4 linked regions of the Homo sapiens genome follow. The protein of the gene in region 4 interacts with the protein of the main gene of each other region in a biochemical or structural test. Each region holds a gene or a part of one and is shown on either strand. Other genes may lie near its edges.

Region 1 (7,615 bases), on a different chromosome or scaffold from region 4:
ACTGCTGACAGCCAACTGATTTGTGAGATAAGGTCTCCATGCATCTGGATCTTCCATAGAACTGATAGTTGCACAGCATAAAATGGTGAGGGTGGGGCCATTGTGGGTTGAGCCACCAAGGAAGGCCATCCAGGCCTGGATGGGCCAGAACAAAGGTACAGATGAGAGAACGCACAGGGTATCGTGTTCAAGGTAGTGAGTAACTGAGGATAGTCAAACGGAGCAGAAGAAGAAAGGGGCAGCAGGAGGAAGAGAATGCCAGTCTCGCACGCCCTCTCCCACAGGCCTGGCTCACTGAGATTCATGAGTATGCCCAGAGGGACGTGGTGATCATGCTGCTAGGCAACAAGGTGAGTGGCTCCGGGGCAGGGTCAGCCCAGCCCTGCACTTCCTCAGCCCTAGCCGGCCCCATAACCACCCAAGAACAGTTATCTAGGCATCCTTCCTGAAAAGGACTCTGCAGCCTCCAGCTCAGGGGTCAGACATATCTGGAGGCTTCTGCCCATCCCATCTGCCCCTTCCAGGGAAAGTCCAAGTTGTTGCCTGAGAAATCAAGGGGTGCCCAGTTCTCAGCCCCCATTAGAGCAGAGTGAACAGGGTCCCAGGTCAGGGGCTAAGAGTGCAAAGGGTTAGCCCCAACTGCTGTCCTATTCCAAGACCCTTTACCAAAGGTGAGATCCCAGAGCTGGGAGCTACACTGGGCAGAAACCCTGGCCCCAGGCCAATCACACCTGCCTGCAGTCCCTTGGGCCACCAGCAGAGGGCAGGCAACGCCTGCTTCTGGGGCAAAATATGGGCCCGCTGGGGCGGAGGCCTCCTTCCCCAGAGTGACCCATTTGGGCTTGACAGGCGGATATGAGCAGCGAAAGAGTGATCCGTTCCGAAGACGGAGAGACCTTGGCCAGGGTAAGTGATTGTCTGTGGGACAGGGTGAAGGGTGGGGGCAACCCGACGCTGGCCCTGAGGACACTCTCTCCCGGGCAGGAGTACGGTGTTCCCTTCCTGGAGACCAGCGCCAAGACTGGCATGAATGTGGAGTTAGCCTTTCTGGCCATCGCCAAGTGAGAGCTGGGCAGGGAAGGGAAGTGTGCGGGGCAGGGCGGCACACTCCAGGAATCCAGTAGGGCCCGGCCCCTGGCCCAGCCCCTGGACACACCTGCATTCTGCAGGCTGAGGTCCATTTGCTCTGGGAGCACTGGGCCACTGGGAGAGGGGAGGGGGCGGCTCAGCTCCTCACCCCAGCCCAGCCCAGCCCAGCCCAGCCCATTGTCTCTTCTTCAAGGGAACTGAAATACCGGGCCGGGCATCAGGCGGATGAGCCCAGCTTCCAGATCCGAGACTATGTAGAGTCCCAGAAGAAGCGCTCCAGCTGCTGCTCCTTCATGTGAATCCCAGGGGGCAGAGAGGAGGCTCTGGAGGCACACAGGATGCAGCCTTCCCCCTCCCAGGCCTGGCTTATTCCAAGAGGCTGAGCCAATGGGGAGAAAGATGGAGGACTCACTGCACAGCCGCTTCCTAGCAGGGAGCTATACTCCAACTCCTACTTGAGTTCCTGCGGTCTCCCCGCATCCACAGGGAGGGTAAAACACTTAGCTTTTATTTTAATAGTACATAATTTAATACCAAAAAAGGCGCCTGGATCCCCAAAAAACCGAGGCTGGGAGCTAGTGGCCCTTTTGCTTTCTAGGACTTGGGGGGCCGGCCCTCCCTCCTAAGCATAACAAAGGTGGTGTTGCTCCAGCTCAGCCCCAGGGGACACAGATGCACTTTGGGGGTGAGGGCAGGTAATGACTCCATCGCACCCTCAGTTCAGCTGGACAGAGGCTCAGGTGACCCCAGCCTTCACTGTCTCCCGCTCTCCAGGAGCTTATCTTCGCCCCATCTCCCAAATAAGTGGGCCCTTGTGCTGTGAGGAAGACCAAAGCCTCAGGGAAGATAAGAGATATGGAGATGGGAGGGGGAGGACAAGGGGCAGAGAGTAGGGTCTAGCTGGCTATCTCTGGCCTTACTAACACCCCCCTGGAGGCATGCCCCTTTTCTCCAGCACACAAGCACATTGGGGCACCTGGAAATATTGGTTCCAGGCTCCTGTTCTCTGGACTTCAGATCCTGGGGGAGCCCCTCCCCCCCCTGAATCCCTGGCTTAGCTACCTTCCTGCCTGTGCACCTAAAAACCTCAGGTCAGAACTAGGAAAAGAGTTTTGTTTTTATTTTTTTGAAATGGAGTCTCGTTCTGTCGCCCAGGCTGAGGTGCAGTAGTGCAATCTCCGCTCACTACAACCTCCACTCCCTGGGGCTCAAGCGATCCTCCCACCTCAGCCGCCGAAGTAGCTGGGACTATAGGTGTGTACCATCACACCTGGCTAATTTTTGTATTTTTTGTAGACACAGGGTTTCGCCATGTTGCCCAGGCTGGTCTTGAATTCCTGAGCTCAAGCAACCTGCCGGCCTCGGCCTCCCAAAGTACTGGGATTACACGCAGAAGGCACCATGCCCAGGCTAGATGTGTCTTATCCCAATCCTTTGGCAGGCATGCAGCTCCACAGGCGATTTCTTCAAGCAGCTGAAGTGTTTAGCCCTCCTGGGTTAAGAGCCAGATAAGGAGAAATCCCTTTCCTAGGTTTGGAATGTGTTGTGAAAAAAAAGAGAAATCCCTGGCTCCTGGAGCTGGTGGGAGACAAGATTAAGCAAACCTCCCCTGACATGTATCCCTTTGACCCCAAGCTCTGCCTCCTCCCTGACCACCCATGCCCTTTCCTTTAACTTCTCAAACAGATACCAGGGCCTAAACTGCTTTACCTCCCCTCCTACTGAGTCAGGTTAGGTGGTGGGAGGTCACCCATTTCCGAGTTAAACCAATGCAATATGAGTAAAACAAAGTCATGTGGGTATGTCTGGGGTAGAGAGAGGGGTAGCAAGTTCATGTGTCCTCCTTGGTCACATATCTCCCAAAGCTCCGATCCCTGCCATGGGAAGTGGACAGGAAACATGAGGTCATGACCTGCAGGCATCTTTACTGCAGCTCTGCCGGCCTGGAGGGGGAGAGGGGGAGGAAGAAGTATGCGCTGCACATTTCTGAGGCTACTGCATTTGCTTTCAAGGCAGAAATCTTGCTCTGAGCAGTCAGCGGCTCCAGTTTGGGCCCGATAAGGAAGTTCTCCGTGGCCTCCCTCAGGCAGAGCAGGGAGGAGGCTGACATTGCCAGTCTCTTCTGGGGCCCAAGGCAGGTTGCAGGAGATCCAATCCCATAGACAGCTCTGGGCCTCTTGCATTTGAGTTTTTCAGAATTAAACTGCAGTATTTTGGAAAGCACATCCTGTCCACTGTTTCTTTGAAGTGAGTGGGGGGGGGGGGTCTTGTTGAAGGAATTGTCATTCACTGCCAAAATCATTCCATCCTCCTTCCTCAGTGTCTGTCCTCAGATGGTCAGCTCCCCGCTCAACAGACTGTCTCCCGCCTCTGTGACCAGCCTCTCTTTGGCAAGAGGGAGCTAGAAGGCTTTACAGTCCTAATCATTTTTCTGTTGGAAAAAAAAAAAAAAAACCAAGGCTCCTTTCCCTGTGGCGTGTACCCAGAGGTTGATTACCTGAGTCTGTCCTGCCTCTCCCCACCCCACCTCCCTAGCCAAACGCTGCTGCCAAAGCCCACGCTATTGCCCTAGATGGCCTGTCTTCAGCGGGCTGCCCCTCGAGGTCCCAGGCTCTCCGCGGAGCCCTCACCTTCCCAGCAGGGATCAGAACCTGCACTCCTCTATGCGAGTCCTGGGACAGCACAAAGTGGATTAGGGTTAGGGTTCCCACAAACGGAAAAATGTTATTCAAACAACTCTGTAGGGTCCGAGGAGGCCCTCCGTCTTAATTCTCGAGACTGACCGGCCCTCGCTGCCCCGAGCGGGAGCAGTTGCCCCGGCAACAGCCGCTCCCTCTCAACTGGAGCTGCACCCAGGCTTTGGCTAAAGGCTGTTAAAACGTTGGCCAGGTGCGGTGGCTCACGTCTGTAATCCCAGGGCGGATCACCTGAGGTCAGGAGTTTGAAACCATCCTGGCCAACATGGCGAAATTTCGTCTCTACTAAAAATACAAAAATTAGCGGGGCGTGGTGGTGCGCGCCTGTAACCCCAGCTGCTCGGGAGGCTGAGGCAGGGGAATCGCTTGAACCCGGGAGGCGGAGGTTGCAGTGATCCGAGATCGCGCCACGGCAGTCCAGCCTGGGCGACAGAGCGAGACTCCGTCTCAAAAAAAAAAAAAAAAGTTAGGGTCCTTTACCCGAGGGCCGGCTTTCCTCACTCCCCGCCACAGGTAGGGGAAACCAGGCCGGAGCCGGCGGGCCCACCCGCCCAGAACCGGGAATTCGGCGAGCCCCGCCCCTGCCACCCCAGCGCCGGCCGCTCGGTAACAAACACTTCCACTTCCTGAGCGCTAGTCTTCGCCCGCCGCGGGGCGCCGCGCCGAGCGCAGGCCCCGCCCCGCGCGTTCCCAATGGCCGGCGCCGTTCACCCGGCCGGAGCGCCCAGGCCTGCAGCCCCCTATTGGCCCGCGGAGGTCCCCACCCTCAGCGCGGCCCCGCCCCCGGGGTAAGGAGCCGGGGCGGACTCTGGGACGCTCAGACGCCGCGCGGGGCGGGGATTGGTCTGTGGTCCTCTCTCGGCTCCTCGCGGCTCGCGGCGGCCGACGGTTCCTGGGACACCTGCTTGCTTGGCCCGTCCGGCGGCTCAGGGCTTCTCTGCTGCGCTCCCGGTTCGCTGGACGGGAAGAAGGGCTGGGCCGTCCCGTCCCGTCCCCATCGGAACCCCAAGTCGCGCCGCTGACCCGTCGCAGGGCGAGATGAGCGCGGACGCAGCGGCCGGGGCGCCCCTGCCCCGGCTCTGCTGCCTGGAGAAGGGTCCGAACGGCTACGGCTTCCACCTGCACGGGGAGAAGGGCAAGTTGGGCCAGTACATCCGGCTGGTGGAGCCCGGCTCGCCGGCCGAGAAGGCGGGGCTGCTGGCGGGGGACCGGCTGGTGGAGGTGAACGGCGAAAACGTGGAGAAGGAGACCCACCAGCAGGTGGTGAGCCGCATCCGCGCCGCACTCAACGCCGTGCGCCTGCTGGTGGTCGACCCCGAGACGGACGAGCAGCTGCAGAAGCTCGGCGTCCAGGTCCGAGAGGAGCTGCTGCGCGCCCAGGAAGCGCCGGGGCAGGCCGAGCCGCCGGCCGCCGCCGAGGTGCAGGGGGCTGGCAACGAAAATGAGCCTCGCGAGGCCGACAAGAGCCACCCGGAGCAGGTAAGCGGGGCCCAAGCCGCGCAGGCTGGCATGGAGTGGGAGGAGGATCCGGAGAGACCCAGGTGCCCCGGCCGTCCAGCCCCGCGCCCGCCGTCGTTTTTCTGAAACTCGAGCTGCGAGGGGGAGACCGCTTCCGCCCGCCGACCAGGCGCCCTGACACATCCTAGGCAGGCCTGGGGCTGCGTCCCGCGACCTCCTCTCCTTCCCAGGCTGTGCTGGGAGCTTGAGCGCCTTTGCCGCCTGCACCTCTTGTTCCCTGGCCTTTGGGAGGGCGGCGCAGGGGAACCCAGCCCCCTTCCCTCGGGTCTGTGGGTGTCTGCTCCCGTTCCTCGGAATCCCCCAATCCTGCTCCTTCCCTGGTGCCCTCTCCTCGTTCACCCCAGTCCGCAGATGGGCCGGGGAGAAAGGGCTCTCCGCCCCAGAGGTGCCAGCTTCGCCCGCCACTCCTACTTCAAAAGCTAGAGGAATAGCATTACTCCTCCTGTGTGGAGCCCCGGCGCGAGGAGGCCCTCTCCGCAGCCCGCCGGTGTGTGTCCTGAACTTCAGTCCTGCTGGACTTCATCCTCCCGGAGTCCTGTGTGACTTCTAAGGGAGAGGAAGCCCCACCATCTCAGGGCGGTGTGGGGGTTGCCTGGCAGGGAGGAGGAGCCAAGGCATCTCGGAGTGGTGGTTCTGCCACCTCAGAGGATTTACGATTCTCAGGAATGTGAAGAGTAAGCGCCTAGAACTGTATCTGGGAGGGAAGGGGAAAGACCTTGGAAGAAGAAAAAGATGGCCATGGGGAGGAGAGAGAGCTCCTGGGGCTCACGGCCCTGTGTGCGCCAGCGGAGCTCACGGTGAGCCGGTGGTCTTGCCCTGGCCTTGCCATGGTCACTCTGGTGCCCACACAGCCAGCAGGCCGGTTGCTTTTTGCCCATGTTTGGTGTTTGCCCATGGGATCCCAGTTTGGATCAGCTGCAAGAGGGGCAGCTGGCAAAATAGGAGTTGTGCTGAGCCTCCTGTCCCCAGAGAGTGGAGTGGTGCATTGTGTAGGGCAGGGCGTGAGCCTCCCAGGACCCCTTCAGCTTGCACCACCAGCTCTCCCTGGTGGCAGTGTCTGATGGGAGTGTCCGTGGGGCTACGAGGAGCCTCCTGGACAGAGAAAGGGCACAGTTCGGCATTAAGGTAGAAGGCAAAGCCCTAGAGGATCAACTGGTTTGGTGGAAGTGAGGTCACCAGAAGCCCTGTCCAGCCAGAGCTGGGTGCTGGGAATGCCAGGGCCACCAGGCTCCCACTTCCTGCCCCTGCCAAGCTGGCATTGGCAAGGGGAGGGGGAAGGGATCTGAGCACCCGGAGCAAGGAGGTTGATGCCAGGGAGTTGGGGCCGATGATCTCCAGTCCCAGGCAGAAATCCAGTGTGAACTTTGTGCTGAGTCCATCGATCGATTTGACATTCTTTTTTTTTTTTTTTTTTGGACTTTGGCACCCACACAAATACCCACCCACCCCCACCCCCCACAAGTTGCAGTCTCGTTCAGCTCCTCCCTTTGCCCTTTTGGTTATGCTGCTGGGTGCCAGAGGGCCTGGGAGGCGAACGTGGAGGCCTGGCATAGCACACGTGCGCAAAGGCAGCAGCTTTGAGCTTCCTGGGTGAGCACAGACTCAGATTCCTGCATGTTTTGGAGGGACACCTACATTTGTGTGTACTTTGTTAGGCCAGGAGATGAGAGGAGAGCCACCAGCAAATCCTGGGGACACCATCACCAGCCAAGTCCCAGGACTTCTGAGTTCTGGTTCTCCCATCTGTGAGATGGAGGCATTGGGCGATGTGATGCCTGCCTTCTCTAGAATTATAGAAATGACGTGAAGCACTTGAGCCCCTTACTAAATGCTGAACTGCACTCCTTCATGCCTGGCGTTTGAATCCCAGCTCCTCTAAACTGACTCCTAGTCAACACCATTGAGTCCTTCTAGCAGAAAATCCTCTCCTCTCAATCCTGTGTGTTGAGCATACAGACACCCATGTGGTTATTAGAAAAAATGTTAACAGACATTGTAAGAGTTCGTTTTTCTAAAACACACCCGTTTCCTACATAAAGCATCAAATGGAGGTTTGCCAATTCGTTTTAGTCTGAATTTGTGTGCAAGGTGGGGCTGTTCCCTTGTCTTCATTAGCCCTCCACTTACTAAGTGATGATATCAGTGGAAAAGTGTGGCGCAGAGAGTGGTTGGCTGGGTGGCCTCTGGCTGGGAAGACCAGCTGTGTCCAGAACCACTCAGGGCAGAGGCTGAGGGGTGCCTGTAACACTGGCCATCCCCGCTGGGGAGTCTAGGCCTAAGGAGGTGGAAGTGGCTCTCCAGCTCTGCCCACC
Region 2 (7,024 bases), on a different chromosome or scaffold from region 4:
AACATAAAAAGCTGCTATCATCATCATCTGTGACAAGGGCCCCTCTGGAAGCCAGTTACTAGCTGGTTCCAGCAGCTCCAACTCCCAGGGCAGCCCCTCCACTCTGAGAACATTGGACAGGGCTGGCCATGCCCCAACTTATGAGCTCCTCCAAGGAGGCTGGGACCTTGGAGGGGGTTCCAGGTGACGGGACACAGCCCTTGTCCTCATGGGGGCACAGCCAGCAGCATGCCCAAGGCGCCAGGGTACTCACCCTCGGCCCAGGCAGCCCAATCTCCGGTTGACATCCCTCTGCAGCAACCCCTCCAGCAGGGAGCGTAGTTCAGGGGAGAAGGAGTCGGGCAGCTCCACGGCCTTTAGAGAGGAGTGGGACATTAGCAGGGGCTTAGGAAGAGCCCTTGACCCCATCCCAGCTCAGGGGAGAGAGGGGTCCAGGCCCCCGCAGAGGGACAGATGGGGCACAGCATCCTAGCTCGCCCAGCAGTCATGCTCCAACAGCACGGGGAGGGCGAGAGCCTATGGGGCAGGAGGTCTGTCTCAGAGGCCAGAGTAGGGGTCAGTGGCCCAGATCTCTGCTGGCTGGTGGGAAGCAAGAGTCATGGCCTGGCACCCACAGGAGCTCCCCCCAGCCCCCTGCGGCCCTGCACTGAGACCTGCACCCACCATCGTCAGCGTCATGCGGTCGATCTCATGCTTGTCTTTGGTCTTGTGCTGCCGGAAGGGGCTGTGCCTGGGCAAGAAAGGCCAAAAACCAATGTCAAAGGACAGGAATGGGGAAAGGGAGGCAGGCAGCATGGATGAGCTGTGGCCAAAGTCAGGGACGGTGCCAACCCTACCACCAAGGCAGCTATGGGCTCCCCTCCTTTGGCATCCCACCTGGATTGGGGAGGAACTTCTCTTAGCCCCAACCCACCTGCCCACCTGGGATGGGCCACTCACCCCCGCAGCAACTTGAAGAGCATGCACCCCAGAGAGAACCAGTCGGCACTGCTGTCGTAGGCCACGCCCTTCTGCAGGACCTCCGGAGCCATGTACCCGTGGGTGCCCCTGTGGGAGCAAGGGGGCCATAAGCGGGAGTGGCAAGGGGTGGGGAGGGAGAGGGTGGGGGGCACTCACACGCTGGCATGGGGCTTCTTCTTGGAGAAGTCACAGGCCAGGCCCAGGTCCGAGATCCGCACGTGGCCATGCTCGTCCAGAAGGATGTTGGCTGGCTGTGAAGGAAGCCCAGTGAGCTGCCTGGGGCAGCTCAGGATGGGGCCCAGCCAGGCAAGATGCCAGCTGGGTCACTGCTTCACTGGAGAGGACGATGGGTACCCAAAGAAAGGGCAAAGGTGGGGGTCCTCTCTCCTGTCCCCAGCTACAACCTGGACCCAGAGAGTGGCTCGGTGGGAAGGGCAGGGGCGGAGATGGGAAGATACGGGGCGGCCATGTCCCAGGAGCCCCACTCCTCTGGGCCTGGTGGCCGGGATGTCGAGAGGAAGGAGAGGACAGCCACGGAGGTCCAGCCTGGGGACAGCAGGGGCGCTCACCTTCAGGTCCCGGTAGACCACGAAGCGGTTGTGCATGTGCTCCAGGCCCAGGATGATCTCGGCCGCATAGAAGCGCATGTCAGCCTCTGAGAAGACCCCGTGCTGGGAGAGGTGGTAGTGCAGGTCCCCACCTGAGGGAGGCAGTCCCACAGGCAGCACTCAGTGTCTTGCCCCAGCCTCCCGTGCCTGGGCCCGGCCCACCCTAGGGCCCGGCCAGCACTCACCGTTCATGAGGTCCAGGATGAAGCTGAGCTTGTCTGGCGTGTGGAACGCGTATGACATGCAGACAATGAATGGGCAGTCCTAGGAGGGGAGAGGAGGGGAGGGGGCGGGCAGTTAGCAGGGGCGCCCGGGGTTCCAGAGCCTCAGCGGCAGCCCGGCCCACCCAGCTCACCCCAGTGCTGACGAGCGAGAGCATGATGCGCTCGTTCAGGGCCAGGGTCTCCCCCTGCTTCATCTTGATGCGCTTTTTGTCCAGGCACTTCATGGCGTACCTACGGGGCAGAGGTCGGCAGTCAACACCCACCCTCAGAGCAGGGGCCCAGGGCTGCCTCAGGGGGCGCTTGAGGGAAAGACTAGACCCAGGACCAGCGTGTGACACAAATCAGAGACAGGGAGGGCTGGGGCCAGAGGAGCCTGCGGGGGTAACAGCACGGCAAGACAGGAGTGCATGGAGCAGCAGGTGGCCCTGTGTGGAACCCGGCCTGTCAGGGTCCCCCAGGAGCCCGGCTCCCCGAGGTATCCCACCGCGCCGAGCAGGGTGCTCACATCTTGCCTGTGTCAGCCTTCCGGCACCCATAGACCTCGCCAAAGCCCCCGCGCCCAATGATGCGATGCACGCTGAAGTCATTCATGGTCAGCTGAGGGGCAGCGACAGCTGCGGTCACCACAGGCTGCCTCTGCCCAGCCCTGGGGCAGAGGCACCTGGGCAGCAGGGGCTGGCCCCATGCCAGGGTCCCCATACCCATGTCCTGGCCATCCTTGCCACATATTTACCTGCTCCGGCCTCCCCATGCTGGGATCCCGGCCCTGACCCCCATAGCCACGGCCCTGGGGGCTAAAGGACAGACATCCCCTGACCTCCCCCTCCCAGCCAAGCCACAGGCCCAGCTCCCGGGAGAGGAGCAGCAGGGTGCGTGGCTTTCCATGCCCCACCCAAGCCCACTCACGTGGATGTTGAGCTCCACATTCTTCCACTGGCAAAACCGTGTGAACTTATCGCTGGAAAAGAAGAATCAGGGCTCAGGGGCCACTCAGAATGTGGGAAGGATGATGCTGTCGTGAGCCTCCCCACCCAGCCGCCACTCCCTGGGGTCCCGTGAGGGTAGGTGTGGAAACATCACGAGCGTTAATGTCCTCTTCCAGGAAGGATATGTTGAGGGCCTGCCCGCCCACAGCACCAGTCAGGGCTGCTTGGGTGCCCAGCATGGCCCTCGGCCACCTGGCCGTGGCTTCCTGCTGGAATCAGATCCGCACAGAAAGGAGGTCTTCCAGTCTAACCCAGACTTCCTGCTACCATATCCTTGACAAGTACGTCTCCTGTCCCTGCTTGCATACCCCCAGTGACACAGAGCTCACTCCATGGCTGGGCAGCAGTGACCCTAAAACAGCTGCTCCCTAAAGCTGGCTGAAATCTACCTACAATTCCCACCCACCGCGCCAACTCTGGCTGTGAGGGTCACGGGGGCCATGCGCTCTACTGGGCCTACCCCTACCAGGACTCTGATGCTTCTCAGTCCAGGTGGGCCAGCAAGGTGCTATACAGCCCACGGGAGAGAAAGAGGCACAGGTGGCACAGCTCTCCTAGCTCCCTGGAGCTAGGAGACTGCCTGGGATGGGCTTTGAGCTGCCTGGTGCTGAGGAGGGCAGGGTGGGAGATGACCTGCAGCCTGTCTGACTTCTCAGGAGTCCTTGCAAGGGGGCCGCTGACGGGCCAGCCACCTGCCTGCTCAGGGCCTAATGAAGGCTGGCTTCTGCCCTCCACGCCAGCCATACCCCTTCTGAGAGCGGCCCCTCCCTCCCCCTTCCTCTCCCACACTTCCCTGCTCTCACCTCTCAATGAATTTCTGGAACACGTCCCCTCGGAGGTTTTGACAAATCTCTTCGATGTATGGCTAAGGGAGGAAGCTGGAAGTTGGTGACTGAGCCCCGAGAGACCGTGGTTGCCCAGGCCCCACCCCTGGCTGACCAGGCTTGTTGACCAGGGGCTGTCCAAGGTGACCTTGCCTGGGGAGGGACCGGGAGGCACACACCTGGAAGAGATCCGGAGGCACCTGCTTCTTCCCCAGGTGGCCTTGGACATGCTCAGTGGCACTCTTCGAGAAGGGCTGGGGAAGACAGAGGTGGCCATGAATTCTCAGCAGGGTCCTCTCTTCCCCTCCCAATCTGCAGGTGACTCTGGGCCAGCACACAGGGCCAGCTGAGGACACTCACATGCGAGCAGGCCAGCAGCTCCTTCATGATGTATGAGTCGAAGATCTCCCGGCTGCGGGCCACACGCTCCTCCTCCGTCTCCAGCTTCTCGTACTTCTTGATCTGGAGGACAGGATTCCTGCAGGTCATCTAGAGCCCAGCAGGGAATGGGGATGCCCACACCAGGCAGCTTGTGGGTTCCACAAAGCCGCCCCAACCTCCTCCCCTTTCTCCAGGCAGAGCAGGGCTTGGGCCTCTGGGTCTCACCTCCTCATAGAATTCCACCAAGGGCCTGGCCTCCTCCAGGTGGTTCAGGCAGAAGTCTCGGAAGAGCAGGTACCCTGAAGGCAACAGTGTAAGGTCACAGAGCCACGCCTCTCTCAGAGGCCTTCCCATCATTGTGGATGGTGTGGGTTGGGCTCCCTGGGCAGAACTGGCTATGGAGGTGGCAAAGGTGGTCTCGGCCCCAGGCAAGGGGTGGGCCAGGCAGCTGCTAAGGCTGCTGCCAACGTGAAGATTCCTGGATTCTGGGTTGGGGCCCCTGTGTTTCTACCCTCTTCCTGAAATCTGTTTCCCCAGGTGGTAGCTGGACGGCGATGGGCACCAGGGTGAGGCAGAGGAGCGGGGTTGGCTCTGGCATCAGGGAGCCCTGGCTTAGCACCTGGGCCCCCACTCACTGCAGCCCAGGGCCCTGCGCCTGCTCTGTGAGGCCGATACCCCCCACCGGGGCGGGCTGTGCAGGTGCAACACGATTCAGTCTGGGGGCCCTGGGATGCTGTGGCCACCGGGGCCAGGTCAGGCTGCAGCATGGGGAAAAGGTTAGCAGGGGGCTCTGAGGCCACACCACTCCTCTGGACCCTGCCCCACTCCAGTGTCTGGCTGATTTGCACAGCAGCCTGAGAAACAGGCAGGGAGGGTGGGTCCAGTTGGGGAAACTAGGGCTCAGGGAGCTGGTCAGACACACTGTCTGTGGCAGAGGCTCAAGTGGAACTCAGGGCTACTCCACCAAATGGCAGGTCCCTGGGAAAGAGGTTGGGGCTGGGGCCTCAGGGCAGGGGGCATGGAACGGGTGTAAGCCACAGGGAACTGGAGAGGCAAGGTGGGCTGTGGGAGGGGCTCTCAGGGGACCCCAGATAGGGTGTCCTCATGCCTGAGTAAGGGGCCTGGACCCTGGACCCCGGCCCCCGAGCACTACCAGGGGACAGAGGCCCTCCTCAGGCCTCCAGTCTGACACGGGTAACCAGGCTCGAGCTGGGTGGCCTCTCATGCCTTCGGGGGCACTGCCTGGGCACCTGGGTCAGAGCTGCGGCCATCATTTCAGTCCTCACTGCCTGGCCTTTAGTGCAGGGCCTTTGAGGAATGGGGGCCAGGCTTCACAGTGGGCACAGTGCTCCCATCTGACTCTGACAGGCCTGCACAGTCGGACTCATGAGTCCCATCTCCCAGATGAGGACACCATCAGGCTCAGAGAGGTGAAGCAACTTGCCCAAGGACAAAAGGCACAGGCCTGGGACCCAAACTTTGTGCTTCTTGACACACCGACTCCCCCAGGCTGACCCCCAATGCCTGATCCCATCAGGCCAGGATACCCCCTGTCCAGAGCTGAGCTCCTGTTCTCGGGAAGGCCAAATCAGAGCCATGTGGGGCTGGAGCCTGCTTCCCGAGACCTGCCCCAAGCCTGCCCTCCGGGCCAGGTCCGCAGGGTGGGTCACATGAAACTTCTGACAGCAGGCATCAGACACCAGCTGGAGGAGGAATGGAGGGCCAACACCAGGCAGGTTGCTTACAAAGAGGGCCCATGGGGTGGGGCGGGGCCAACCACAGCTCGGCAGGCGCCACAGGAAGGGCCCCGCCTCTTCCTGTCAGTTCTACCAACGGCCCAGAGCAGCTGCGGCCGCGCCAAGGGGAAGCTGCAACTCTCAAAAACAAAAACCCCAAAGGAGGAACTTCCCTGGCGGCCCTGGAAGACTCTGGGCCCCCACCCCCACCACGGGGCTCCCTGGGCCGACAGCCAGGGGCAAGGAGGCACGCAGGGTCGCAGCGACTTGGAGCAAGCCCTGGGGTCTCGCTGGCTGCTCCACCCTGAGTGGATGGGAGGCCAAATCTCTGGAGAGTGGGGAGCACAGCTGGGCTGGCTGGGGTAGGGGCAAGAAGTTAAGTCCGGTGGCTGGCAGAGCCACTGCCATACTCACCCAGCTTCTGGGAAAAGATCTTCTCAAAGGTCACCTCGCCCCGGTCCTCCAGGTACTTCTGCATGACACTGCGGATGCTGTGGGTCAGGGGGGCGCAGTAAGCAGAAGCCCCCAGAGCCCGTGGGGGCTGCAGGCCCAGAAACGCGAGCTGAGGGCACTGTGGTGGTGTCGCCACTCCCTCCAGGAAGGAGGCCAGCCCGTCAGGCCTACTCACTTATCCCAGCCACAGGTCAGACCAGAAGGCTTCAAGGAAGCCTTTGCCTGCACCGCCCCCGCCAGGCTGTGTCCTCAAAGGCCAGGGTGGCCGGCAGGTGGCCCCCTGCTCAGAGGCCCACCGCCTGTGGGGTCTCGTCCCAGTGATGCCACCGGCTGGCTTTGGGAACTTGGCCAAGTCACAAAAGCCAAGCCTGGTTTGTGAGCGGATGAAAAGACACACATGTGGCATCTCCACGCAGCAGCACATGGCTCGGCTGTAAAAAGGAACAAGGCACCAACAGGGGCCACAACGTGGATGAGCCTTGAAAACATGAGGCTGAACGAAGCCAGTCACAAAGGGTTGCCACATATTGTGAGATTCCACTCATATGAACAGATCCACGGACACAGAACGCAGATCCGTGGCTGCCGGGGGCTGGAGAGAGGGAGAGGAGTGACTGCGGTGGGGACGGGGTTTCTTTTTGGGGTAAGGGTTGCACAACACGGTCAATGTACTAAAAAACACTACATTGTATAATAAAATGATGAATTTTATATGAATTGCATCTCAATTTTTTAAATTGTAAGAAAAGGCCATGCCTTGGTTCGTGTGTCCCTAGTACTTGGATATAAAATGTGACCCCTGCCCTGGGTTGCTTGGTATGGCCATAGGGGAGGGCCTGGCCATTGTGACCC
Region 3 (7,024 bases), on a different chromosome or scaffold from region 4:
CAAACTAATCTAACAATACAAAGTACTTGCTATGATGATTCTTACTGGCAAATCACACCCAATTCCATGAATGTTCATTTTTATGTACAGTAAGTGCATTCACCAATAATCTACCAACATTTAATATTCACTAAAGATCCAACTACCAGATGACACTTGGCAAAACTACAAAACTCCTACTGTGCATGGCATATATAAACTCAAAGTTATTACTAAAATTATTATTTTTATGGCACCAAAGCTGAAGACATTGATACAGTAATAGAATATAAAAATAGTATGAAATGTTATTTGGAGCACCCACCCCTCTCTTTCAACTGTCTACCCCTGCTCTGAGTACCTCTGTTCTCCCAGTGGAGGCTATAAAAAACTTTAAAAAGGGGATCAGATTTTATCCTGCAATATCTGCCAAATAACATTTTTGGTAATTAAACAGTTACCACATGACACCATACTTAAGTAATGTTTCAAAACTCTTATATACCCATTTTATATAAGAGTCAGTGAAGTAGTTCCTTTCACATAATTTCCACGAAATCATGGTTAAAAAGTATTATTAGGGAGCCCTCAGAAATACTACAATAATGACATTGTCTCAATTTGTGTTTAAAAAGACCATTGTTTTAAAAGCAAAACACCTTGGAAAGTAATTCGTTTAGAATTTCATTTTCAAAATGGTAGAATAAAATTGTTTTAAAAACGTAATTGTTTAACTAGGCTAATAATATTTTTCTCAATGCCAAAGACTGTTAATCTTCCAAAGTATTCCATCTCCCTAAAAATCAACAGCATTGATTTTAGAGAATCTTATTTAATTTTTTTAAAGAAAATTAAATAAAAATTACAAGAAATACTTTTAAATTGTGCACATTAAGGTATCAGTATTTCAATTTTTTAAAGAAATAACTTTTAAATAAAAGCAATTTTTTATTTAAATATTTGAGTAAAAGCAGTGCCTAGAAATCAAATCAGTTTTGGTTTACAGCCAATATCTGTTTTTCTAAAAATGATAGTTTTATGACAACTGTGTACTACTTCTGGCCTCCAAGTAAGAGAGATTAAATGTTTTAAAAGAGATCATTTCCTGTAGTATTGATTCCTCGGCATCCCACCCTTTCAGGAACTCCCCCTCCCTTACGTCTTGGGGTTCTGCTACAGTTATTAATCATATTATGCTATTTATACCCAGCTGCAAGGGTAGACATGTCCCCACGCCTGACCAATCATGGCACTTCATTGTCCTCTCCTCTCTCTACAATAATTGGTCCAAGAGATGGGCACAGGGCCAAAGTCCCTGCATGAGATTTGTTATTAGACTCCAAAAAGATGAGAAGCTTTAAGGACCCTGTATGACTTCGGGGTTCAGAGCTACCTTCACCGCTACACTGACAGTCTAGCTGAGAAAAAATCCAACCCAGAAGAAAAGAGAACCAAATAATAATTCTAATGACCAACACTTGAGAACAGAAGTTAGCTGTTACTGATCTATGCCTGGATTTTAATGTATGTAAGTCAATAAATTTCTTCTTAGCCTACATTAATCTCAACAGCGTTTCTGTCACTTGCTACAGAATTCTTACAAATACAGAAACTGATATGTAAATTAAGATTTTTTTCTTTCCTGCTGAGATCTAAGCTATATATCACAAGATACTTGCTGCAAACTAGATAACCATATCCAAAGAGTAATATATCTCTGGAACTACTCCATTAAAGTGAATTTTTAAAAGTTATTTTATTGGAGGAAAAAGCAAAGCCAATTTAGCTTAATTCTATTTAAGTTCAGAAAATGAAGCATTAATAAATACTTGTTTTTTTCCTACCTTGTAGGATATTTTCCTTTCATAAAACTACTTCTGTTAAATGCCATTATGTATAGTAAAATCCCATTTTTCATAGTCATGTGTAATTCCCAATCAGAACAACGAGATACAGGCTTGCCTCTCACAAACTCCCCTGAAGCCAGAAAATAATAATTACGTGTTTCAAATTATGTGCAAAAAAACCAGCAAAAGCAAAGAGGCTAAAATGCCAGAAAGTTTTAATTAAGTAGATCGGTTACCGTTCACATTGTATACCCAAGACAATAAAAAGGGAAGCCTCCAAATAGAAAAGATCTTAATTATTAATAAATTTGAAACAAAATTTTTTCCAATTACCACTGCATGATATTTTTTAAAACCAAACCCTAAACTCCAAACAAATTATGGCAAAAAAGTTTAACCCTTCATAACCCATACAGAGTCTCTAAAACAATATCTCTCAGTATGTGTTAATAAAACAAGTACCTAATCACCTATAAGGACAGCGTGTCCTTTCTCAGGTATTTAGATATGTCATAAGTCAAATTATGGTCCTCAAAATGTAATCTATGTTCCCCTGGCCATGTTGGGATGACTGAAATGGGTGGGGGCTGCAGGTAAGTGGGTTGCTCCTGGAAACCACTGCAATGCAGCTGAGTGGCTGCATCAGGATAAATTGCTAGGGTTCAGGGAAGAATGGAGATATAATGATGCCACCCTTCTCACTGGAAGCCAGTCGGCTGTGGCTGTAACAAAAGGGAAGGCGGGATTAAGATGAAAATATATTTTTCAATTCCCTTTTTCCTAGGCTAGCAAATTGTGTTTTCCCATAAAACTGGCTAGACTTCCAAAACAACAAAAATAGGGCTATTAACCATAAAGAACAGAACTAATGGTACATTAAGGGTTAAATAAAAATATTCATAGTATAACATTATGAGTGGAATGAGGCTGAAGGCAGAAATAGCATTAAGCACCTTAGAGCATTATTTCGAGGAGATAACACATTTAAAAAAAACTTACAGGAGACTATTCATAATGGAACTACCTATACATTTAAACAATTAATATGATCTTCCCTCTATTTTCCAATTATTCTATAATGTGGATTTTGTGCCCTTGTACAAAATAATTTCCAATTATTCTATAATGTGGATTTTGTGCCCTTGTACACAAACACACACAAAATTATTGAGATGGACCACACTGTAAACCTTTCTGTATGGAACGTTTTTGCCCTGTGTTTTTCTCCTCCTCTGCTTCTTACCTACTACTGGAAAGATCCTAATTCCACTCAACCAAAATCTGTCATCTTTCAAAACCCAAACAAGTTCAAAATTATTCACAATTCATTCCTCAACCACTCAAGTCAGAAAACAAGGGCAGATGGCGTGGATCCTACCAAGATATTAAAAAGAAAAAAAGAAAAGAAATCATTCTTTCACTTCATGTACACATTTAATTTCCATAAATTCACTGTACATACCTAGATGAGGATAATTTCTTAGAATTAAAAGTTTTTTTGTAAAACATATCTTTTTAATGCAAGCAAATTACTTCTTCTGGTATTCGACCAAAAAACTGCAATTGGTTCCAACATGGGTGGAAAAGTGGCATTTGGACTCATCCTACAAACAGTACAATATAGTATTTTATGCACAATTTAAGGGCTTTTTGAAAAGACAGTTTTGCTTATATTTGATTTCCCTCTTTTTGTGATGACTTGAGAACCCAAATCCTTTCTAAAATGCAGCTCCACTACTTTTTCGAATAGCACACTATGCAGCCAGTTAGTCTCATTTTCACCAAAATTCATACTAAGACCTACCTAAAGAGTTTTAAACACTGGCAGAAAAGTGAAAAAGGCAAAACCCTTACTACAGGTATTCCTTACCAATGAGTCATTAAGCTCCCACTAAACTGCCAGCTTCTTGAAGACACACAATTTCTGACTCATGTTTATATCGCCAGTGCTAGCTCCATGCTGGCACTTGGTGGGTGCACCACTAAGTATTTGCTGAGGGAATGAATGCGTGCCAGTAATAGGACTTCTTATTTTTTCTGTATTAAATAAAATATGCATCTTTTCTTGGAAAACATTCTGAATAATAGTTGTTCTTCAAAAACAAAATATTAGCAAGATATTTTGTTAGCAAAATTAGCTAGAAGAGCAATGAATGGATTTGCCTCTTTCCCTACAAACATGTCTCATAACACCAGCTTCTAAGTTTCTGAAACTCTTACTTTAGACAATAGTTTTAAATTCAGGGCATTCACTCTATCTACCAAAATGTAGTATTTCAAGAAAATTATTGCTCAAAATTTCAGAAGACAAAAAATAATTTATTAAAGGCGAAACGGTTCTAGTCTTCAATACCAAAACACTTATCTTTTGTCAAATCACACACACACACACACACACACACACACACAACCCTGACATTCACAGATTTTGAAATTGGTAAATAATACTGAAGTAATCCATAAAAACAAGATTCTCTTTCAACATACTCCCAAAACACTAAGTCCCCCCAAAAATTACAAAGCACTTAGGGGTTACATAGTAAAGACTCTGTATGAAACTATCACTTGAGAAGATTAGGCACTGACTTCATAAGTCAGACACTTGAATGAATTTAGAAGATTTGTTTTGTCGCCAGTTTACATAAATTAGCAGAAAAAAAATCACAAAAATTTGTCTCTCAAAACAAAAGGTTTTATAAAGTATGTGCCAGGATCTCAGAGGAAAAATAATGTATACGTCCCAGGAACACAGAGTTATGTTACATGAAAATCAGTTTTAGCAATAAACTGAATAAAATTTAAAATCATCTAAAAATCAAATGGCCAAATGTTAAGTATTTGTTTGTACCAGTAAGATAGCAAGAAATTAAAGAATTATTAAAATGCCTCAACCTAGGAAAATAAAGTTTTACAAACTAAATTATAAAAGTCTGGGGGTGAGGGCAGGATCAATAAAGTACCCAAAATGATATACTAGAAAATGATATACAAGAAAAGTTAACAAAAGTATGTGTGTGTGTATATACATATACATATATGCATATAATATATATATACACACACGTATATACATATATACATACTGAGATATTTGGATATAGTACTCTTAGAGAATGATGGAGAGAAAATATTTTTTAAGTACAAAGATGTTAATGATATAATAAAAGTCATCAAATATCATGCAAGCAAATCAGCTTGCAATTGCTAAGGTGTAAGCCCATTACTCATATGAATTGAAGGTGTCAATGAACAGAATCCAAAACCTGAACCCCTGAGTTATTAAGAGCTTTAGGGAAAAAAGAAAAAAAAACTACCAAAATTTGAAATAGGAAATTTTCAACTTCAAGGTTTATCAAAATGTAATGCTACTTTCCCTAGCAAAGGGGCTTGGCTTGCTTCTTTTTCTATTGTTTCTAAAATAATCTCTAGGTCTCTAGATTTTCTTGTTTTAAAAAAGGTACGAAGAAATGTATTGTAAGCCTGGGAGGCTAACAATTAACTCTAAATTCTCTTACCTTTCCCATCCTCATATAATACAACCACCTAAACAAAACTCATCAAAAATCCTAAATATCCCACTAAAAAAAAAAAAAAAAAAAAAAAAAAAAACTAACAAAAAGATTCAAGAGATAAGAAAGGCACAGCATTATTTTTATTTGAATAACATAAATATTTCCTATTTTAAAGCATCCAGTAGTGTTTCTTCACCAACAGGAAGTGTATTTCTAGGAATTAGCCCATTTTAACAAAACTCCCTTACAAATTGGATGTCCCAAAGAGTCAGCAGTGAAGACTTTTACCTACCTTTAACATTACCCAGGAACTGTTTCAACTTGGTTTTTATTTAAACAAACTATAACATTGTTTCCTATGATTTCCATCCCTGGATACACTACTTGCTTAGGGTAGTTGAATGTAATGTGTGCATATGGCAGTAGACAATGATTTCATGTATTTATTGTACCGATACTTAATCTCTGGAATAAAATACACATAATTTACTGAAACTTACTGAAAGCAAACTGCTGAAATATGAGCTTAAAGGTGTATGAAGAAGCATAAAACTCTGCACAATTAGAGTCTGGGGAATTTCAGAACAAAATTCACTACTTGTATATTAATCAGAATAGAAATGGTTTAAGAATATATACTCTGTAGTAAAATCAAAGAAACTAAACCTAGTCATAGTAGTATATCACAAAACAATTTCACCAGAGGTCCAAAGTTCAACTTTACTACTGGGAAAAGACAAAGTTCAAACTCAAATGACAACTTTTCTCTTTGCAGAAAAATAAACAACAGGGTCATAATTAAGAAACAAGTAACTAATCGAGCCAAGCAATAGGTGAAACCAAAGATTCTTCTATAAGCGGGCAAAGTACTGACTACTAAGTACTACACTAAAACAATAAGAAACTACCTAATTGATTCAGGAAAAGCTTCAGATTAGAAACCATATTTTAAAGAGTAACTTTCAATTCTCTATTAAAGATTATAACAACAAAAAAAGGGAAAAAAAATCAAAGCTAAAGACAGTAGCTGCCAGAAAGATGTTAAGTCACCTGGCTGATAGTACTGGCTTTGGGAGGGCGACCCTTAGCACCTAAGTGAAAAGAAGGCTAGGAAGAATCAGTGCTACAAAAGCCATGTTCTACAACCCAGCTCATCCTTCTGCCATGGACTTTGTCAGAAGACAATATGAGAACATTTCCGATTAGTATTACATCTTACAAAAATGGTTAAATTTTACTCTTTCACTGTGCTAGTCTCTAAATGTCATGTTATGAATATGGTTTAATAAAAAGCAACTAGTCAAGACAAGAGAGTGCTAAGTACACTTTACAATACCTTATTAAATTGAAAAATCAATTTCTGTCACAAAGTTTAGATAAAAGCAAAAAATAAAACAATGTTTATGGCAAGTTTCTTTTTAAATTCCCTTACTCTATTTTCATCCTTTCCAAAATGAATCACAATAAAGAATCTTTGTCTCTTCTGAAAATAATATTTGTTTTTAATCAAACTCAAAAGTTCTACAGATAACCTCTTCAAATTCTTAATTTCTAGTATTTAAAGTCTGTTTAACCTGCAAAAATCTTGCTATTTTATAACAAATGTTGCTTTTAAGCAAAGCCATTTAAGAAAGCCATTTAATATAATACCTAACATGAGGCTATTAAGAAGCTAAGAATACTATT
Region 4 (6,488 bases):
CATGGTGTATATGTGCCACATTTTCTTTATCAAGTCTATTCTTGATGGGCATTTGGGTTGGTTCCAAGTCTTTGCTATTGTGAACAGTGCTGCAATAAACATACATGTCCATGTGTCTTTATAGTAGAATGATTTATAATCCTTAGGGTATATACCAGGTAATGGGATTGCTGGGTCAAATGGTATTTCTTGTTCTAGATCCTTGAGGGATTGCCACACTGTCTTCCACAATGTTTGAACTAATTTACATTCCTACCAACAGTGTAAAAGTGTTCCTATTTCTCCACATCCTTTCCAGCATCTGTTGTTTCCTGACTTCCTGTTTTTTTTTTGAGACGGAGTCTCACTGTGTCACCCCGGATGGAGTGCAGTGGCACAATCTCGGCTCACTGCAACCTCCACCTCCCAGGTTCAAGCGATTCTCCTGTTTCAGCCCCCAGAGTAGGTCAGACTACAGGCATGCCACAACTTCTGGCTAATTTTTGTATTTTTATTAGAGACGAAGTTTCACCATGTTGGTCAGGCTGCTCTCGAAGTCCTGACCTCAGGTGATCCACCCACCTCAGCCTCCCAAAGTGCTAGGATTACAGGCATGAGCCACTGCGCCCGGTCTGTTTCCTGATGTGTTAATGATCGCCATTGTATCTGGTGTGAGATGGTATTTCATTGTGGTTTTGATTTGCATTTCACTAATAACCAGTGCTGATGATCTTTTCTTCATATGTTTGTTGGCTGCATTAATGTCTTCTTTTGAGAAGTGTCTGTTCATATCCTTTGCCCACTTTTTCATGGGGCTGTTTGTTTTTTCTTGTAAATTTGTTTAAGTTCTTTGTAGATTCTGGATATTAGCCCTTTGTCAGATGGATAGATTGCAAAATTTTTCCCCCTTTCTGTAGGTTGCCTGTTCACCCTGATGATAGTTTATTTTGCTGTGCAGAAACTCTTTAGTTTAATTAGATCCCATTTGTCAATTTTGGCTTTTGTTGCCATTGCTTTTGATGTTTTAGTCATGAAGTCTTTGCCCATGCCTATGTCCTGGATGTTATTGCCTAGATTTTCTTCTAGGGTTTTTATGGTTTTAGGTCTTACGTTTAAGTCTTTAATTCATCTTGAGTTAATTCTTGTATAAGGTGTAAGGAAGGGGTCCAGTTTCAGTTTTCTGCATATGGCTAGCCAGTCCTTCTTGATTTAGTATTTGTGGGTTTTAAAAAAGGAGTTTCCCAAAATATTCAGTTAAACTTTTAAGTGACTTACGTGTATATCTAAATACATGATCAGTTAATATTTGTCTTAAAGGGGTTTTCTTTGTTCTTTTCTTATTATAGGAAGGTTAAACAATATGCTTATTTATGCCATAGCTTCACAAACAGGAAGGAGGTTTTAAATGGTTTAGTTCCACAATTTGAGTAGATGCATATTTAAAGAAACGTTGTTGCATAATAAATACTGCCTCTTCCTAAAATGCATCATGCCACAGCCAATTTTGGAAAACACAAATATGAGGTGAGTGTATTTTGAAAACTATGTGAATATAATAGATCTTTAATTCATATTTGTGGATTTTATGGGAAATACTTGTTTTCTAAGGCATCTGTCTTGCAAAAAGTCAGTTTCTGCTATGAAGGATGTTAAAGGGGATATGTAGGTTAAATTCTGTTTCTGAGCTTTGCTTCCAGAGTAAACACCCAACTTACTTTTGCCCTAAAGTATTTTATTGTTCTAGTAGAGAAGACTAACAACATATTCTAAACCACTAAGTAATTTATGTAAACTTCGCTTACAAACTACACTTGTGTGACACTTATATGAGCAAAAGCATTTTCATATTTCTTACTATATCATTCAATTCTTGCTTACCCCAATGGAAGTGACTTTATGCCCCTTTAGAGACAATGGAAATCAGGTACTTCGTGATTTCTCTTAAAAAAAAAAAAAATGAACTAGAAAGCTCCAAGTTTGGTGAATCTGGAACCTGGGTATTCCAGTTCCAGTTGTAGCCCTTCCTCCCTATCCATCACTCCTGTCTGCATGTAATTATGCAATACATTGAAAAGATTAAAAGATGGGTCTTGGACTCAGGCAGACCTGGGTCAAATCCAGATTCTGGCACTGCCCAGCCATTGCCCCTGGGCAAGCCATTTTCCTCTTTGAACCTCATTTGTGAATTAAGCTAAAAATAGTCCCCACCCCCATGGGACTGTGGGAAGGATTAAATAGAATAATGCATGAAAAGCAAATAGCAGAATGGTCCATAAATGTTAACCATTGTTATGTTATTATGTAATCTACAAAGTACGTTTAGTTACACTTCATGAAATACTTTCAGTTTTTCAAAGACACCACTAATACATGGGAAATCAAACCCTGAAAATTAATTTCACTTTAGCAGTAAAGTCACATGCCAGATGGAAAGGATAGTATTTCATGAACAAAGATCTTACTTTTGAGATTTGGTCTTACTTTTTTCTTTTTCTTAAGGGAGAATTATCTTGTGTTTTTTGTTTTGTTTTGTTTTGAGATGGAGTCTTGTTCTGTCACCCAGGCTGGAGCGCAGTGACGTGATCTCGGCTCACTGCAACCTTCACCTCCCGGGTTCAAGAGATTCTCCTGTCTCAGCCTCCCGAGTAGCTGGGACTACAGGTACGTGCCACCACACCTGGCTAATTTTTGTATTTTTAGTAGAGACAAGAGTTACACCATATTGGCCAGGATCTTTTGCTTTCTATAGCTTCAAAATGTTCTTAATGTTAAGACATTCTTAATACTCTGAACCATATGAATTTGCCATTTTGGTAAGTCACAGACGCCAGATGGTGGCAATTTCACATGGCACAACCCGAAAGATTAACAAACTATCCAGCAGATGAAAGGATTTTTTTTAGTTTCATTGGGTTTACTGAAGAAATTGTTTGAATTCTCATTGCATCTCCAGTTCAACAGATAATGAGTGAGTGATGCCACACTCTCAAGAGTTAAAAACAAAACAACAAAAAAATTAAAACAAAAGCACACAACTTTCTCTCTCTGTCCCAAAATACATACTTGCATACCCCCGCTCCAGATAAAATCCAAAGGGTAAAACTGTCTTCATGCCTGCAAATTCCTAAGGAGGGCACCTAAAGTACTTGACAGCGAGTGTGCTGAGGAAATCAGCAGCTGTTGAAGTCACCTCCTGTGCTCTTGCCAAATGTTTGAAAGGGAATACACTGGGTTACCGGGTGTATGTTGGGAGGGGAGCATTATCAGTGCTCGGGTGAGGCAAGTTCGGAGTACCCAGATGGAGACATCCGTGTCTGTGTCGCTCTGGATGCCTCCAAGCCAGCGTGTGTTTACTTTCTGTGTGTGTCACCATGTCTTTGTGCTTCTGGGTGCTTCTGTGTTTGTTTCTGGCCGCGTTTCTGTGTTGGACAGGGGTGACTTTGTGCCGGATGGCTTCTGTGTGAGAGCGCGCGCGAGTGTGCATGTCGGTGAGCTGGGAGGGTGTGTCTCAGTGTCTATGGCTGTGGTTCGGTATAAGTCTGAGCATGTCTGCCAGGGTGTATTTGTGCCTGTATGTGCGTGCCTCGGTGGGCACTCTCGTTTCCTTCCGAATGTGGGGCAGTGCCGGTGTGCTGCCCTCTGCCTTGAGACCTCAAGCCGCGCAGGCGCCCAGGGCAGGCAGGTAGCGGCCACAGAAGAGCCAAAAGCTCCCGGGTTGGCTGGTAAGGACACCACCTCCAGCTTTAGCCCTCTGGGGCCAGCCAGGGTAGCCGGGAAGCAGTGGTGGCCCGCCCTCCAGGGAGCAGTTGGGCCCCGCCCGGGCCAGCCCCAGGAGAAGGAGGGCGAGGGGAGGGGAGGGAAAGGGGAGGAGTGCCTCGCCCCTTCGCGGCTGCCGGCGTGCCATTGGCCGAAAGTTCCCGTACGTCACGGCGAGGGCAGTTCCCCTAAAGTCCTGTGCACATAACGGGCAGAACGCACTGCGAAGCGGCTTCTTCAGAGCACGGGCTGGAACTGGCAGGCACCGCGAGCCCCTAGCACCCGACAAGCTGAGTGTGCAGGACGAGTCCCCACCACACCCACACCACAGCCGCTGAATGAGGCTTCCAGGCGTCCGCTCGCGGCCCGCAGAGCCCCGCCGTGGGTCCGCCCGCTGAGGCGCCCCCAGCCAGTGCGCTCACCTGCCAGACTGCGCGCCATGGGGCAACCCGGGAACGGCAGCGCCTTCTTGCTGGCACCCAATGGAAGCCATGCGCCGGACCACGACGTCACGCAGGAAAGGGACGAGGTGTGGGTGGTGGGCATGGGCATCGTCATGTCTCTCATCGTCCTGGCCATCGTGTTTGGCAATGTGCTGGTCATCACAGCCATTGCCAAGTTCGAGCGTCTGCAGACGGTCACCAACTACTTCATCACTTCACTGGCCTGTGCTGATCTGGTCATGGGCCTGGCAGTGGTGCCCTTTGGGGCCGCCCATATTCTTATGAAAATGTGGACTTTTGGCAACTTCTGGTGCGAGTTTTGGACTTCCATTGATGTGCTGTGCGTCACGGCCAGCATTGAGACCCTGTGCGTGATCGCAGTGGATCGCTACTTTGCCATTACTTCACCTTTCAAGTACCAGAGCCTGCTGACCAAGAATAAGGCCCGGGTGATCATTCTGATGGTGTGGATTGTGTCAGGCCTTACCTCCTTCTTGCCCATTCAGATGCACTGGTACCGGGCCACCCACCAGGAAGCCATCAACTGCTATGCCAATGAGACCTGCTGTGACTTCTTCACGAACCAAGCCTATGCCATTGCCTCTTCCATCGTGTCCTTCTACGTTCCCCTGGTGATCATGGTCTTCGTCTACTCCAGGGTCTTTCAGGAGGCCAAAAGGCAGCTCCAGAAGATTGACAAATCTGAGGGCCGCTTCCATGTCCAGAACCTTAGCCAGGTGGAGCAGGATGGGCGGACGGGGCATGGACTCCGCAGATCTTCCAAGTTCTGCTTGAAGGAGCACAAAGCCCTCAAGACGTTAGGCATCATCATGGGCACTTTCACCCTCTGCTGGCTGCCCTTCTTCATCGTTAACATTGTGCATGTGATCCAGGATAACCTCATCCGTAAGGAAGTTTACATCCTCCTAAATTGGATAGGCTATGTCAATTCTGGTTTCAATCCCCTTATCTACTGCCGGAGCCCAGATTTCAGGATTGCCTTCCAGGAGCTTCTGTGCCTGCGCAGGTCTTCTTTGAAGGCCTATGGGAATGGCTACTCCAGCAACGGCAACACAGGGGAGCAGAGTGGATATCACGTGGAACAGGAGAAAGAAAATAAACTGCTGTGTGAAGACCTCCCAGGCACGGAAGACTTTGTGGGCCATCAAGGTACTGTGCCTAGCGATAACATTGATTCACAAGGGAGGAATTGTAGTACAAATGACTCACTGCTGTAAAGCAGTTTTTCTACTTTTAAAGACCCCCCCCCCCAACAGAACACTAAACAGACTATTTAACTTGAGGGTAATAAACTTAGAATAAAATTGTAAAATTGTATAGAGATATGCAGAAGGAAGGGCATCCTTCTGCCTTTTTTATTTTTTTAAGCTGTAAAAAGAGAGAAAACTTATTTGAGTGATTATTTGTTATTTGTACAGTTCAGTTCCTCTTTGCATGGAATTTGTAAGTTTATGTCTAAAGAGCTTTAGTCCTAGAGGACCTGAGTCTGCTATATTTTCATGACTTTTCCATGTATCTACCTCACTATTCAAGTATTAGGGGTAATATATTGCTGCTGGTAATTTGTATCTGAAGGAGATTTTCCTTCCTACACCCTTGGACTTGAGGATTTTGAGTATCTCGGACCTTTCAGCTGTGAACATGGACTCTTCCCCCACTCCTCTTATTTGCTCACACGGGGTATTTTAGGCAGGGATTTGAGGAGCAGCTTCAGTTGTTTTCCCGAGCAAAGTCTAAAGTTTACAGTAAATAAATTGTTTGACCATGCCTTCATTGCACCTGTTTCTCCAAAACCCCTTGACTGGAGTGCTGTTGCCTCCCCCACTGGAAACCGCAGGTAACTACTTGTAATTACTGCCCATGACTTAATGTAGAATGATACAAGAATGACATGCACAGATTGCTTAACCCTTTCATTTGCCTTTGAGTCTGCTGCTGCAAAGCTGCATCTCTCCTGACACTTGTGCCCCAAATCAGTTCTGCCTGCTCTTAGTATAGCTCAACTCTCCCTATGGTTATTGTTCTGTGTTGTTACCTCAGAAACACTGACTCACAGAAGCGGAGTTAAGGGGATATGTTTTTTTCTCTCCACGTGCACCCACCACCCACCTTCCAGTTCTACTTGTTTCAAAACTGTTTATATTTCTGTCTTGGCCATGTGTTACAGTGGAGCTCTTTGTACTGCATCAGGGCTTGGCATTTTAGGGATAAGGAAGATGTTCTTATGAGGAAGCTACTCAGACATGGCCCCGTAATTCTGAGGGAAAATTCAAAAGGCATTGGTCATGG

What was found.
Region 1: the proteins of ADRB2 (region 4) and NHERF1 form a complex in vitro, tested with the Homo sapiens proteins (3 studies listed by BioGRID and IntAct, with this or other methods).
Region 2: the proteins of ADRB2 (region 4) and GRK2 form a complex in vitro, tested with the Homo sapiens proteins (2 studies listed by BioGRID, with this or other methods).
Region 3: the proteins of ADRB2 (region 4) and MAGI3 form a complex in vitro, tested with the Homo sapiens proteins (2 studies listed by IntAct, with this or other methods).

The regions. Positions count from the first base shown.
Region 1 is NC_000017.11:74,744,024-74,751,638, forward strand, and holds the start of NHERF1 (Na(+)/H(+) exchange regulatory cofactor NHE-RF1), read left to right. Parts: upstream 1-4,604; 5' UTR 4,605-4,823; coding exon 4,824-5,264; exon of another isoform or gene 5,265-5,844; intron 5,845-7,615. Other genes in the region: RAB37 (ras-related protein Rab-37), read left to right, coding at 285-350, 850-906, 985-1,061, 1,283-1,388. UniProt on the Homo sapiens protein: Scaffold protein that connects plasma membrane proteins with members of the ezrin/moesin/radixin family and thereby helps to link them to the actin cytoskeleton and to regulate their surface expression. Necessary for recycling of internalized ADRB2.
Region 2 is NC_000011.10:67,276,458-67,283,481, reverse strand, and holds part of GRK2 (beta-adrenergic receptor kinase 1), read right to left. Parts: intron 6,211-7,024; coding exon 6,134-6,210; intron 4,283-6,133; coding exon 4,209-4,282; intron 4,065-4,208; coding exon 3,963-4,064; intron 3,857-3,962; coding exon 3,782-3,856; intron 3,644-3,781; coding exon 3,582-3,643; intron 2,751-3,581; coding exon 2,699-2,750; intron 2,390-2,698; coding exon 2,298-2,389; intron 2,024-2,297; coding exon 1,924-2,023; intron 1,833-1,923; coding exon 1,754-1,832; intron 1,661-1,753; coding exon 1,530-1,660; intron 1,212-1,529; coding exon 1,117-1,211; intron 1,048-1,116; coding exon 940-1,047; intron 731-939; coding exon 664-730; intron 355-663; coding exon 254-354; intron 1-253. UniProt on the Homo sapiens protein: Specifically phosphorylates the agonist-occupied form of the beta-adrenergic and closely related receptors, probably inducing a desensitization of them. Key regulator of LPAR1 signaling.
Region 3 is NC_000001.11:113,393,499-113,400,522, reverse strand, and holds part of MAGI3 (membrane-associated guanylate kinase, WW and PDZ domain-containing protein 3), read right to left. Parts: intron 1-7,024.
Region 4 is NC_000005.10:148,822,658-148,829,145, forward strand, and holds ADRB2 (beta-2 adrenergic receptor), read left to right. Parts: upstream 1-3,953; 5' UTR 3,954-4,174; coding exon 4,175-5,416; 3' UTR 5,417-5,966; downstream 5,967-6,488. UniProt on the Homo sapiens protein: Beta-adrenergic receptors mediate the catecholamine-induced activation of adenylate cyclase through the action of G proteins. The beta-2-adrenergic receptor binds epinephrine with an approximately 30-fold greater affinity than it does norepinephrine.